Homo sapiens: one gene and its partner. The protein of the gene in region 1 purifies or fractionates together with the protein of each later gene. This does not show direct contact. Each region holds a gene or a part of one and is shown on either strand. Other genes may lie near its edges.

Region 1 (8,881 bases):
TCATCCTCACTGATGCTATTTACTCAAGAGAAATTAAAACAAAAATACATGTAAAGAAATGTCCATAGCAATTTTATGGTGGAAGACTGAAGGCAACCCAAATGTCCATGTCAGGAGAATGGATAAACAAGTTGTAGTGTATTTAAAAAATGGAATATTACTCAGCAAGTAAAAAGAACAAACTATTGTGGATGAACCTCATAAACATATTGAGTGAAACTAGACACAAAAGAATACATGTTGTACAGTATATGAAATTCAAGAACATGGCCAGGCATGGTGGCTAACACCTGTAATCCCAGCACTTTGGGAGGCCAAGGTGGGTGGATCACCTGGGGTCAGGAGTTCAAGACCAGCCTGACCAACATGGTGAAACCCTGTCTCTACTAAAAACCTCCTTTAAAAAAATGAGCCAGGTGTAGTGGCACACACCTGTAGTCTCAGCTACTCGGGAGACTGAGGCAGGAGAATTGCTTGAACCCAGGAGGCAGAGGTTGCAGTGAGCCAAGATGGTGCCACTGCACTCCAGCCTGGGTGACAGAACAAGACTCTGTCTCAAAAAAAAAAAACAAAAAAAGAAAGAAAGAAAGAAAAAGAAAAAGAAAATAAAATAAATTAAAGAACAGATAAAACTTAATCTATAGTGATGGAAACCAGAACAGTGGTTGCCAGTGGTGGTGGGGATTTACTGGAAAAGAATGGGAAGAAATTTTCTGGAATTATGGAAATGTTCTGTATCTTGATTGGTTTGTTGGATACATGAATATATATCTTTGTAAAATAGTTTTTCATTTTACCTAAAATTTTTTTTTAATTACCTTCAACACTTAGCTTTCAGCTAGCTCCTCAGTGGAAAAGAGGGGCCTCTGAAGGGGGCAGGTGGAGGTAGGGGAGGTGGAGCTGAAGATAGCTGCTGCTCTTGTCAGAAGAACAGGATCTCAAACTCACCCACTCCCTTACTCAGAGCATGTGATTGATGGAGCACACTTCTCCTTGAGAAGAACTCTGAGGACAATGGGCACACCCTTGTCTGAGCCCGTTACATTTCCAGAAAGCTAATCTACTGACCCTCTATGGATTTGTTACAACCATAAGTCTTACATAACCAGTGCTTTAAATTGTAATAAACTAGATATCTTTGCAAACAACATTCAACTTCTAAATTTTGAGAAACAGGCAAATACATGTAAAAGTTCTCATTTCTGATTTTATTTTAACTAGAGACGGGGATCTCGCTATGTTGCCCAGGTTGATCTTGAACTCCTGGGCTCAAGCAATCCGCCCACCTTGGCCTCCCAAAGTGCTAGGATTACAGGCAGGAGCCACCGTGCACAGCCTGAGATTTTATTTTCAAAGTGAACTGTTGCAGGATTGATTCCAACAGCCCTTCCCACTGGAGCCAATCACACCAGAGTTGATGAGGGAAGGGAAGAGTTAGTGGAGAGGCCTCAGCCAAGAGGCTCAAAATCAACGCAAGGAAGATGAGGACTGAAAAGCAGCTTGGAGATTTCAGCCAGGTGGAGGTGGAGGAATAGAAGCCAGATTGAGGTAGGATGAGTGTAGGGAGTGATAAGGAAATGGAGACTGAATTTTCAAGAGGTTTGGCTAAGAAGAAGAAAAGATAAACAGGGTATCAAGTGGAGGAGGACGTGGGGTCAAAGAAGGGGTTTGTTTTTGTTTTAAGGCTAATACGAGCATGTTTCAGAGCTGACAGGAAGAGCTGAAAGGTTAGGAGGCGGGGGCTGATGGATGTCTCAGGTGTCTGATAGGAGGGGAGGGGTGGAATCCTCATCTAGAGAGTGGCTGGAGAGAAAAGACAGACGCCTCTTCCGCGGCGAGTGGCAGGAGGAGCAGTGGGCAGAAGGGCAGCTGTGGATGGGGGCGGATGTGCTGGCAGGCAGGAGGGCGTTCTTATGTTGATAGACATAAGCCACCTAAAGCCATGGCTTCCAGATCCTCAGCAGCTGAGCTGCTGAGAGGTGTGCAGCAGTCTGGAGAGGGCAGGATGTGGCCGTTGAGAGTGTGGACAGAGTGACAGAGCAGCAGTTCCCAAACCCGAGTGTGCATCAGAATCACTAAGGGCTTGGTGGGCACAGAACACACCCTGAGTTTCGGAATAGACATAGAAAGGGTTTGCCTTCCTAACAAGTTCCCAGGTGCTGCTGGGGCTGCTGGCCGAGGTCCTTGCTTGGAGAATGACTGGTTAAAGAAGCCACAGCTGTCCCACCCTGCAGCTCCAAGGGGACCGCTTTGCATGGCTGCCACCATGCCCCTCCAAGAGGAGGTAGCATGCTGGTCCCAAGGGGCATGATGGTATCACTTTCACCAACAGAACTTAGCAGTCCCTGAGCAGAACCTGGAACCAGAAAGGGGGACAGGAGAAGCTCTGCCACTTGGGTAAGATGCAAGAACAGAACAAAGAGGATTCAGGTGCTGGCAGGAATGGCTGTTGGACTGAGCTGAGGGCTCCTGGCCCAGAGTCACTCTCCTCACTCCCAGTGCGGACTCTCATTTCCCTGTCACTTGTCCACACCCTGTGTCTTTCCAGTTCCCACCCAAATCTCCTGTCTTGCATGGAGCCTGGGCTGCACCACGACCGCATTCACCCTGCTGTCCTTCCCTGAGTCCACAAAACTCAGTATGCGACATGGACCTCCCGCAGCCTCCTGGCTCCCCTTGGATTATTGACTGGCTATACTGTACTCCATCAAATATAAGATGCTATCACTTGTGAAAGACATTACTTAATCACTGCCAATTATAATTGTAAAAGATATCTTGATTCTCAAGATGTTAAAATGTGAAGAAATGTGTTTCTTAGAATCCATGGAATATGGATTCTTGAGCATCTGAACAGGTGATCTGCAGAGCATGGTGCCCCCCAAGACCCATTCAGGGGGGTCTCCAAGGTCAAAACTATTTTTTGCAACAATATAAGTCATTATTTGCCCTTTTCACTCTCATTCTCTCATTAGCGTGCAGTGGGGTTTTCCAGAGACTACATGTGTGATGACATCGCTTTGATGCCCAATGGAATATATGTATTCTTGTGTCTTAAAACTTTCTGAGTTTTAGTTTCTAATATGGTAAATGTTGATAGACATAAGCCACCTAAACAAAAGCTCTTGGGGTCCTGAAACCAAAAAATTTAGGAATCACTGCACTAGGTTGTACGCCCAGCACTTGGCCGGCATTGAGTCCATGGTCAAGCGTAAGGAGAGGCCCGAGGGGGATGTGCACAGTGCTGAAGGTGCACAGGAAAGGGACTTATCCCAGCCGGTCTGGGAAGGCCTTCCAGGGGAAGTGGGGTGCTCGCCTGCCAATCTCAGGCATGTGGATGCTTCACCCAGGTGGCCCTGTCTTGCTGACCAGAGATTTGTGCCAAACCAGCTCTGCGACCCTGGGTTTAGTCATGCTACCTTCTATCACTATTAACATGAGGCTAATGTGTAGGTCACAGAGGCTGTGATGAAAATTAAATAATTGAATGCACGTGAAAGAATGCCACTCATAGAAGGTTTCACATGACCACATCCTTGGTGGCTGGGTTGTGTCTTGGGCATCTCTGTTTTCTGCCACAGAGCTTAACACAATGCTTGGCACACAGGGGTGCTTGGAAAACACTGAGTGAAGGAATGCATGTTGGGGGTGTGGCCTAAGCAAGACGTGGAGCTTGCCTTCTCCAGACACCAGGTTTCCCATGGGATCTGGAGCAGGTGATGAGCGGTAGTCCATAACACCTTCCTCTCTGGCTCTGTGCCAAACCAGATTCCTCCTCGTCTCCTCCAAACCATCTGTCTTCTTCCACCTCCCCATTCCCTCCCCCCAGTTCCCCAGGCTGGTGGCCTTAGCATCAGTTAGACTTTCTTCTTTCCCCACCTGTCTGTCCTCAAGGTTGCTAGGTTCATCCAAGATCTGAGCCAAGAGGTCCGGGTCTGGGACGTGGGCGCTAAGGGCCCAAGGCAGCTGCAAAAGACCTGAAAGGTGAGAAGAGAGATCAGTGGAGGACCCCGGACTGTCCTCAAGAAGCGGACGGACTCCCCTGCCCTCCACTGGCAGCCCAACAGCAGAACCAAAGCGGACCACTCAGCACAACCTGTGTGTGTTGCTGGGCGCTGTCCCTGGCCCAGTCTGGACCAGGAGCAAAGAGGAAAGATTCAGGGCGTTAGTGCCAAGAGCAGCCATCCCAGCAACAGAAGCCCCTGCTTCCCCAGTACCCGTGATACTTGGGAGGAGCAGAGTCTTGAGTGGAACCCGAGCCTCTGACACCCGCCCTGGGGGTCTTCCCTCCACTCTCGCCAGGGTCCTCCTGGATGAGTGAGACAAGGGCAGTTCAGGAGGTCACCCAATAACTGAGGTCGCAGCAACACGAAGGAGCCAGGGAGCAGGGGCGGCCTTCCCTTCTCCACTCCAGGCGGCTCCAGCGTGCACCCCAGGACCCCCCAGGAAGGTTTTGCAGGAATAAAGAATGAAGGCAGAAGCAAGATGGAGGATGAAGGAGGCGTGGATGGCTTCAGAAGGCAAGACGGAGGCAGCAGTTTGGCGCCTGTCTCAAAGCCTCCTCCCCGCGCCAAGGACAGGTCGGAGGAGGGGGGCGTGGGGACAGGTAGAGCGGAGGCTCCAGCGTTTCTAAAGGGGAAGACCTGAAGTGGGGCAGGAGAGACGGGTGAGTTGTCTGGAAGCTGCATTTGCCTGGCAAACACTGGGTTAACAAAGACTTGCGTTGCGGGGATGCTGGCCTTGGACAGGGAATGCGAAGGGATTATGCTACGGAGAACGGATCCGAGCGTGACGGCTGAATGAATGAGTGAGCGAGTGAGTGAGTGAGTGAGTGAGCGAGCGAGTGAGTGACTGTGCGAGCGAGCGGCAGAAGGAACTCCGACCCGCCCCAGGTGCGGAGCGGCGCGCCCGGCAGGGGTCACTGCGGGCCCCGCGGGCGGGAAGGGGGCGCAGGCGCGGCGGGCGCCGGGGCCCTCCCGCGGGGACGGGGCGGGGAGGGCTGGGGGTGGGGTTAGAGAGAGGGACGCGAGCGGGATCCAAACTTCCGGTGCCTGCAGAGCTCGGAGCGGCGGAGGCAGAGACCGAGGCTGCACCGGCAGAGGCTGCGGGGCGGACGCGCGGGCCGGCGCAGCCATGGTGAAGATTAGCTTCCAGCCCGCCGTGGCTGGCATCAAGGGCGACAAGGCTGACAAGGCGTCGGCGTCGGCCCCTGCGCCGGCCTCGGCCACCGAGATCCTGCTGACGCCGGCTAGGGTGAGAGGGTCTGGGGCTCAGGCGGTGGGGCGGGGGACCCAGGCTCACGACCCAGGCGCGCCCCGTCGGCCCTGGGGACTGCCCGAGGCGCGTCAGGGCCCCAGAGCCCGGGGTGGAGCAGGGTTGGGAAGTCTCGAATGGTTGCTTATCCCAGAATGAGGAGGGGGCTTAAGTCCCGTACTAAAGCGGCAGCCAAAAGCTGAAGTCCGAAGAGTGGGAGGCGTCTGGTTCTGGTCTTCAGGTGGAGAAGTGCTCGAGGTCTCTTCCAAAAGTGGGGGCCCCCTCGCCGCCTTATAGGGGGAGGGGGCTGGTCCGAAGAAGTTCGAGGAATGTTGGTGGGGGGGTACGCGTCTGGTTCCAATCAACTGGGAAAGCCGCGAGTCGAGTCCCCAGGTGGGGGATGGGAGGAGGGTTAGACGTAGTTTTTCCAAAGTAGGGCGGTGGGACCTGATTGGCTGGGGAATTGGGGGTGGGGGGGTCTGGTACCAACGAAGAGGGTGGGGCCGTTGATTTCCTCCGAAATTGGGGGCTGCGAGGGACAGAGGATGTGCTGCTGGCCTGCACCGGAATTGACAGACCAGAAAGTGATGAAATGGAAATCAGCCAGAACCGACGGCGCTGCGGCCTCTGGACGTCGGGGGTCCGAGGCCGGGTGCCCCCTTCCCACCCCACGCCCTGCCGTCTGGGCCTCCCTGCTCCCCTCTCTTTTCTCCATTCCCAGCCTCTCGCTGGGCTGTCCCCCGACCCCACGGGGAGGGCTCCCAACTGCCCCAGTGCCCTTGCATCCTGGGTCCCCGGGCTCTGTGCGCGTTCCCCCACCCCTGTCATCCCCCTCCCCTACCCCGGCTTCCTCCACTTTCCCTCTGGCCGGGGGGGAGAGAAGGCATTTCCGCCGTGGAAAACTGTCTGAGCTGCGTGCCTTGTGTCCGGGAAGGGCCCGCAGGGGGCAGAACGCGTGGCGGGCAGGGACAGGGAGGGAGGGAGAGCTGGCCCAGCCAGGTTTTATTGTGCCTGGCAAAGGTGTCTACGTGGGCGCCGCCCCCAGCGGTCTTGTGGCTTACCAAGCCCATGTCCTCCCCGCCTCCCCACCCCGCATTGAGGCAGGACTGAGAAAGTCTTTGTCCACTGCTTCCCCACTTCCAGATGCAGGCTTCTGAAGAGTCTTCCTGAACGCCTAGCCCCCTCCCCAGGTTTTGTGGCTCAGGTTCAGTCTTGCCTGGGGCATTAAGGGGCCTGCAGAGGATGACCTGGACCCTGGAGGAGGGGGCGCCGGAGAGGGCCGTCAGAGTTGGGTGTCAGCCTGGGCAGAGACCCTGAGTGAGGAATGCCAGGAGACTGAGAACCCCCTGCCCTTTTATGGTGGTCACTGCAGCAACCAGTGGCTCAGAGCCACAAGAGTTCAACAACCACCTAGGCGAGGTTGGGGGTTGCTGTGCACCCCATGAGAGCAGCTCCCCCCTTTTCATCTGAAGCTTAGGTGGAGGGGGCGCTCCATATTTGAAGAAGATGGTTCTGCAGCTTTAAAAGTTTGCAAGGGGTTCTTCAAGACTCCTTTTCTTTGGAAGGGAAGCTGCCCTCCACTCAGCCTGGGGAGGGGCAGGGATGGGGGCAGGAGGCAGCACGCTTGCCCATCTCTTTTCCTAGCCACCTCTTCCTGGAGATATTTGAGGAGGGAGGACCAGGTCAGACAGTGGGAGGGTGTTATTCCAACTCCATCAGAAGGTCCCCCAGATTTTGCAGGAGCGGCACATTCTCCAGCCGCAGCCTGCTGATGGCATGGGTTTGGGCAGTCTGACAGAGACCTGCATCTCGGGGCATAACTGACATCCTAGCTTCTGGCTTCTCATCAGGCTCTGAAATTGAGCGTCCTTTCTTCCCCCTCACCCAGCATGAAATGGAAATATCAACATCTTCCTGCGTGCTGTTTGTAATGGCCTTGAGCCTGCTGAGTACCTCCTCCCTCAAACTTTGTCAGTTGGGCAGGGTCCCCTCCCTCTCTAATTGGCAAGGGGGAGCTTAGGACTATGCGATCTGGGGAAAGAATTAGAATCCTGGCATCTTTAGGACAGAACTGCATGTTAGTAAACTTTCACAGCTTCCCAAGGCCCTGGCGTGGTGCAGAGGGACTTTAGGTGTTGCAAGTTGGCTCTGCCCATCACCTGCTAGATTTGGAGCCTTGGAAACAGTTCACTTCTGCGGGCCTCCTGTTGCCCCACTTGGCCAACCCGCACATTTCCTCCTTACCCAGTTTCTGGCAAGGAGCCAGGCCTCGTCTCCTGCCCCCAGCAGTGAGCAGGCAGGAGGCCCATTTCTCAGCTGTAGCTCTGTGAGCCGAGGGATGGCAGCCAGGAGGCTGCTTTCTCAGGGCAGGGCGTGTAGATTTTGTCCCGTACTGTTGGGAATGCCCAGGAAAGCTTATTAAAACGTTTCTTCTGGCTGGCAGTGACCCCAGAACCCTCCTTGGTGTCTGAACTGGACTCCAAAACAAGATTTATTTTATTTTATCTATTTTATTTTATTTTATTTTTTTTTTTGAGACAGAGTCTCACTTTTACCCAGGCTAGAGTTCCGTGGCACGATCTTGGCTCATTGCAACCTTCACTTCCAGGTTCAAGTGATTCTCCTGCCTCAGCCTCCCAAGTAGCTGGGAATAAAGGCACCTGCCACCATGCCCGGCTAATTTTTGTATTTTTAGTAGAGACAGGGTTTCACCATGTTGGCCAGACTGGTCTCAAATTCCTGACCTCAGGTGATCTTCCCACCTCAGCCTCCCAAATTGTTGGGATTACAGGTGTCAGCCACCACACCCGGCCCAAAACAAGATGTAAAAAGTGATCCGCAGGAGGAGCACTCGGTGAACAGATGATTGTGCGGTGAACAGATGATTGTGCGTTGGGGCAGTTCTTGACCTGTGTCCAGGCCCAGAGTGAGGGCGGGGTGGGGGCAGGGTGAGGCGGCAGGAGCACCCTCTCGGTGGGCACTGCCCCTGCTTCTGAGCAAAAACTGCAACACAAGGAGGATTTTGTCTGTGGACCTGAGACTGGAAGGAAGTGCCTCAGTGGGCCAGGGAGGGATGGGGGTGGGGGCCAGCTGGGCTTCCAGCTGCCCGGCCTCCCCCCCTGGTGTTTTGACTCTGAGATAATGAGGAGCTGGGACACTGCCAGCTTGGGAAGTGGGCTGGACCGGAAGCACCCCCTGGGACAGCAAAGCACTCCCTCCCAGCGCCAACTGGATCCCTCCTCCCCTTTGGGGGCCCACTGGCTGGCCATGCCCCTCTTAGCCTGCCCCTTCTCCCCACACCCTGCCTGTGCCTGCACTCACACACACACACACACACACTTATGCACACACATGCACGCACAGATGTGGGCATGTAGAGGCTCACGAGCTGGGGCTGTAAGGGGAGAAAAACAAGTTAAATACAATCATCTTCTTACCTCTGTAATTTTCTCCTTGGCATTTGCCTTTGATTAATGGTCCTGTGTCACCCCCTCCCCAGCCTGCATACCTGGGGATCAGATTTCAGTTTCCTAGTGTGTCCTGGTCTCAGGCCCTCGGCAGGAGGAGCTGGGTCTCCTGGAGCGGTTGGGGGAGGGTCCCGTGCCAGCCAGGAGGGCAAATCTGGCCA
Region 2 (4,598 bases), on another chromosome or scaffold:
CCTGTCTCCCTGGTTTCCTAACCTAGCTGTGGACACAGTAGTATTATAGTTAGGTCTTGAGAACTCCCAGGACTCCAGTAGACTTGTGTGGGTTCTCAGTGGGGTTGACCCCATTCCTCTGAGGTCAAAATAGGCCCTTCATGAAGGCTTCCTGAGGGTCTTTCAAGTTCCCATCCCCATTCGGACCATGCTATGGGGAATCTTCTTTGAGATGGGGTGAATGTGGGAAGGCTGGAGGCAGTCCTTTTCCTACCCTTGTGGGTGAATAAGTCCAGGTGTGCCATCTACTTCACTTGAAGGGCTGACTCAGGTGAAATCCCAGCTGGGCGGCTCTCAGCCTCCCTTTTTCTGTACCCCGTGGAATCCACACAGAGCCTGGCCTCTCCAATTGCTGTGCTTTGGGGGCTCTTTCCACCTGCCTGACCCTCTAGACCCCCAAAGCCACCACAGCCTCTGTGGCAATGGGACAGACACATGGTGGCTGTGGAGTTTCCATGTCTGTGTCTTTGCTGACTTGGGAGTTCCTCCTGCACACCATCCCAGCCGCCCTCTGCATTCCGCCACCCTAAGGCTGGAGGCTTCACCATGTGGCAAGAGACCAGAAAATTTAAAATACCATGCCCAGTGCACATTGCATCACTCAGGGACCCTGCTGGAGGGAGAGTCTGTTATCTTTTGAGCATACAGTAGGTATTCAAAAAGTACAACACTTGGTGAATGAGAAGATTGGCATTAGTGATGGAACTGCTCACACTATGAGCTTTGTATTGCCCAAACGTTTAGGTTCTTGGTGCTCTATTCGTGAGTCAGTGTTGGTTTTAGAACGCAAACACTTGAGGAGCAGAGATTGTGTTCTTTTAGAGTAAGCCCTGCCTCTGCCCTGGGACTCCAGCTTAGAACATGCCTGAAGCATATTAATTGATGGGTGTATCATTTCCTGAGGCTCTCTCTGGTTGACCAAGCTTGGTGATGTTGGATAAGGCTCCATTCAAAGGATAAATGCCTAGATAGTCCAGGAAGGCCACCATGGTGCAGGCAAAGCAGGGAGGCCCCCCAGAGGCTGTGAGCTTAGGAGTGCTGACAGCCCTTTCTCACCCCACAGGGCTGGGGCTCTGTGCCGCTACTGCAAGTGTCTGTCAACATGGCCACAAGGCTGGGAGTACTGGACCCAGACAGGGCACAAATGGGAATACCAGAAACACATGGTTCCCACTCTCAACACCTTTCTTCTAGTCCAGCTGCAAAATGCAATTCACATTTACAAAACCCATGTAAAGACACTTAGAAAGTAGCCTGTTAACCAGTGGGGAGAAAATGCAAAAGGAGACAACCAGAGAGATGTGCGAGGAGGTGAGGGAATGTGAGGGAGCGATGATAGTGATGAGAAATCCACACTCCTGACTTTCAGACTCTCCTCCTCCGAAATCTTTGCTGGAGCTTAAATGGTGCAAAGCCCGTGAGCATCTGTGCCTATCATGGAAACAGTTAGCATGTGTCAGCACCTGTTAAATCCCTGAGCACTTTGTATCATTAATTCTTACAGCTATACTATGAGGTAGGTATCACTGCCCCTAGTTCACAAATGAGGAAAATGGGGCTCTGAGAGCCTAAACAGCTTGCCTCAGTCATATAGCTAGTGAGTGGCAGAAATGCAATCTGAGTCTTCAGTTCTGTGCCTCTAAGAGCCACTTGGTTTCCACTCACATTGCCAAAAGTAACTTCGTGGAGGGTAGGATGTTCTACAGAATCTAAGTCGTGGGGTCTCGTGCTGACTGTTGCTCTGTTTGCTGCTTCAGGTAATTTGTTCTTGGTGAGTCTGGCATTGGCTGACCTGGTGGTGGCCTTCTACCCCTACCCGCTAATCCTCGTGGCCATCTTCTATGACGGCTGGGCCCTGGGGGAGGAGCACTGCAAGGCCAGCGCCTTTGTGATGGGCCTGAGCGTCATCGGCTCTGTCTTCAATATCACTGCCATCGCCATTAACCGCTACTGCTACATCTGCCACAGCATGGCCTACCACCGAATCTACCGGCGCTGGCACACCCCTCTGCACATCTGCCTCATCTGGCTCCTCACCGTGGTGGCCTTGCTGCCCAACTTCTTTGTGGGGTCCCTGGAGTACGACCCACGCATCTATTCCTGCACCTTCATCCAGACCGCCAGCACCCAGTACACGGCGGCAGTGGTGGTCATCCACTTCCTCCTCCCTATCGCTGTCGTGTCCTTCTGCTACCTGCGCATCTGGGTGCTGGTGCTTCAGGCCCGCAGGAAAGCCAAGCCAGAGAGCAGGCTGTGCCTGAAGCCCAGCGACTTGCGGAGCTTTCTAACCATGTTTGTGGTGTTTGTGATCTTTGCCATCTGCTGGGCTCCACTTAACTGCATCGGCCTCGCTGTGGCCATCAACCCCCAAGAAATGGCTCCCCAGATCCCTGAGGGGCTATTTGTCACTAGCTACTTACTGGCTTATTTCAACAGCTGCCTGAATGCCATTGTCTATGGGCTCTTGAACCAAAACTTCCGCAGGGAATACAAGAGGATCCTCTTGGCCCTTTGGAACCCACGGCACTGCATTCAAGATGCTTCCAAGGGCAGCCACGCGGAGGGGCTGCAGAGCCCAGCTCCACCCATCATTGGTGTGCAGCACCAGGCAGATGCTCTCTAGCCTGGATCTGAGGCACACCAGCAGCATGACAAACTCATGAAATGGTGGGAGAGAGTCTGCTGCAAGGGTGAGACCAGGCAGCCTGCTGGGCCACACTGTCCTGTTGGCATCACAGCCCCAAGGCTGGGGGAACTTCATGCTGGGACAAGCAGCCCATCAACGCCATGGGTTCAGGCTGATCCAGGAGATGCTCACAGGCCACAGGACCTGGAAAACACTCTTGGTGGTGTCTTGGGGATTTGGTGCACACAAGACCAAGGAAAGGACAGAATGAGGAAAGGCCTGGGGCAGAAGAGCCCAACTCCTTCTCATAGCTGACCCTCATCCTCCTGCCTTGGCCTCCTGGCTGCTTTCTCCCCTTCCCCCCAGCGTGGCAGGATCTCTTCCTGTTAGCAAGGATGAAAGAGAGAGGTCAGTAGGACTGGAACTTGGTAACTGCAAGGGCCTCAGGTGGGGCAGGTGCAGAGGGCAAGCATTCCACACTCCGCCATTGACCTTCCCTACACACACACAATCACAACCACACATGCATCACACCACAGACACACCACACTATGCACACATACACTGTGTACACATACATATGTTACACACACATAGCCACCACATCACAAACACACTGCACCCCCCCCCCCCACACACACACACACAGTCACACTGCTCCAGCATCTGGAGCACAAAGTCCGCTTGGCCTCCTTTTCTGGTTCCATCATGTTCAGGTTGTGTGACTTGGGGAAAGTCTCCTAACCTCCCTGTTCCTCAGTTTACTCATCTTAAAGTGAAGATCATGCCGTAGTCAGCCTCCCAGGTTGTTGTGAGGATTCTCTGGGATAACACATCTGCAGAGCTGAGGACAGTGCCTGACATGTGGCTAGCAGGCAGTAATCATTAGCTTTTGTTATTATTATAACTACATAAAATGAAGGAGAAAAGTCATATACAAAGAAAGGAAGGGCTATCACCGGATGCGGTGCCTCACCCCTGCCTCAGCTTGAACCCAGGAGTTCAAGACCAGCCTAAGCAACATGGCAAAACCCTGTCTCTACAAAAATTAGCTGGGCATGGTGGCCCATTCCTGTGGTCCTAACTACTCAGGAGGCTGAGGTGGGAGGATCACTTCAGCTCAGCAGGTTGAGGCTACAGTGAGCTGAGATTGTGCCACTGTACCCCAGACTGGGTGACAAAGTGAGAGCAAGACCCTGTCTCAGAAAAAAAAAAAAAAAGAAGAAGAAGTAGAAGGACAGGAAGGGAAGGGGAGAAAATGGGGTAGGGGACATGGAAGTGGGGAAAGGGCAGCTGCACCCCAATTCATTTCTATGGTTATGTATTTGTGGACTTTATATTCGTAGAAATCTCAGATCTTTGTTTAGCGCCAACAGAATTAATAGCTTTCTTCAGTTCCACAAACACTGAGTGCCCTCTGTGGGCCAGGACTGGTTTGTTGCCTGCCCTCTGCAAGGTCACAGTCTGTTGATAAATTAGTATCAAGTAATATCCATTGGTGCTTTCTATGTACCAGGCATTGTGGTAAGGGCTTGATATGCATTATGTCATTTAATCCCCACAAAACTCTTGGAAAAAGATACTATGATCAATTTTCATAGTAAGAAACTGAAACTCAAAAATGTGGAATGATTGCCAGAATTCAGATAGCTATGTTCAGAGCTAGATGTGGAGCTCAAGTCTGTCTGATGACAGCACCCTACTTCTATCCCCCATCATCCCACCTCGGAATATGTGGCAGGGACAAAGTGCAGTGGGCTAAGTACTGCATGTCCACAATGTGCCTGGGGTCCTCAGCCACCCAGCGGCTTTCCTGAATGAAGAACCCAGGATTTTCTTGGTGTGCTGACCTCTTAGCATTATGCTGGATCCTCTTTCTGGCCTTGCAATGTGAGGAATCTAGGCTGGGTGCTGTGCTTAGTCCCCTAGCCAC

What was found.
Region 2: the proteins of ITM2C (region 1) and MTNR1B purify together in Homo sapiens (tandem affinity purification; 2 studies listed by IntAct). This does not show direct contact.

What each region holds. Positions count from the first base shown.
Region 1 is NC_000002.12:230,859,893-230,868,773, forward strand, and holds the start of ITM2C (integral membrane protein 2C), read left to right. Parts: upstream 1-5,049; 5' UTR 5,050-5,133; coding exon 5,134-5,253; intron 5,254-8,881. UniProt on the Homo sapiens protein: Negative regulator of amyloid-beta peptide production. May inhibit the processing of APP by blocking its access to alpha- and beta-secretase.
Region 2 is NC_000011.10:92,979,651-92,984,248, forward strand, and holds the end of MTNR1B (melatonin receptor type 1B), read left to right. Parts: intron 1-1,796; coding exon 1,797-2,662; 3' UTR 2,663-3,132; downstream 3,133-4,598.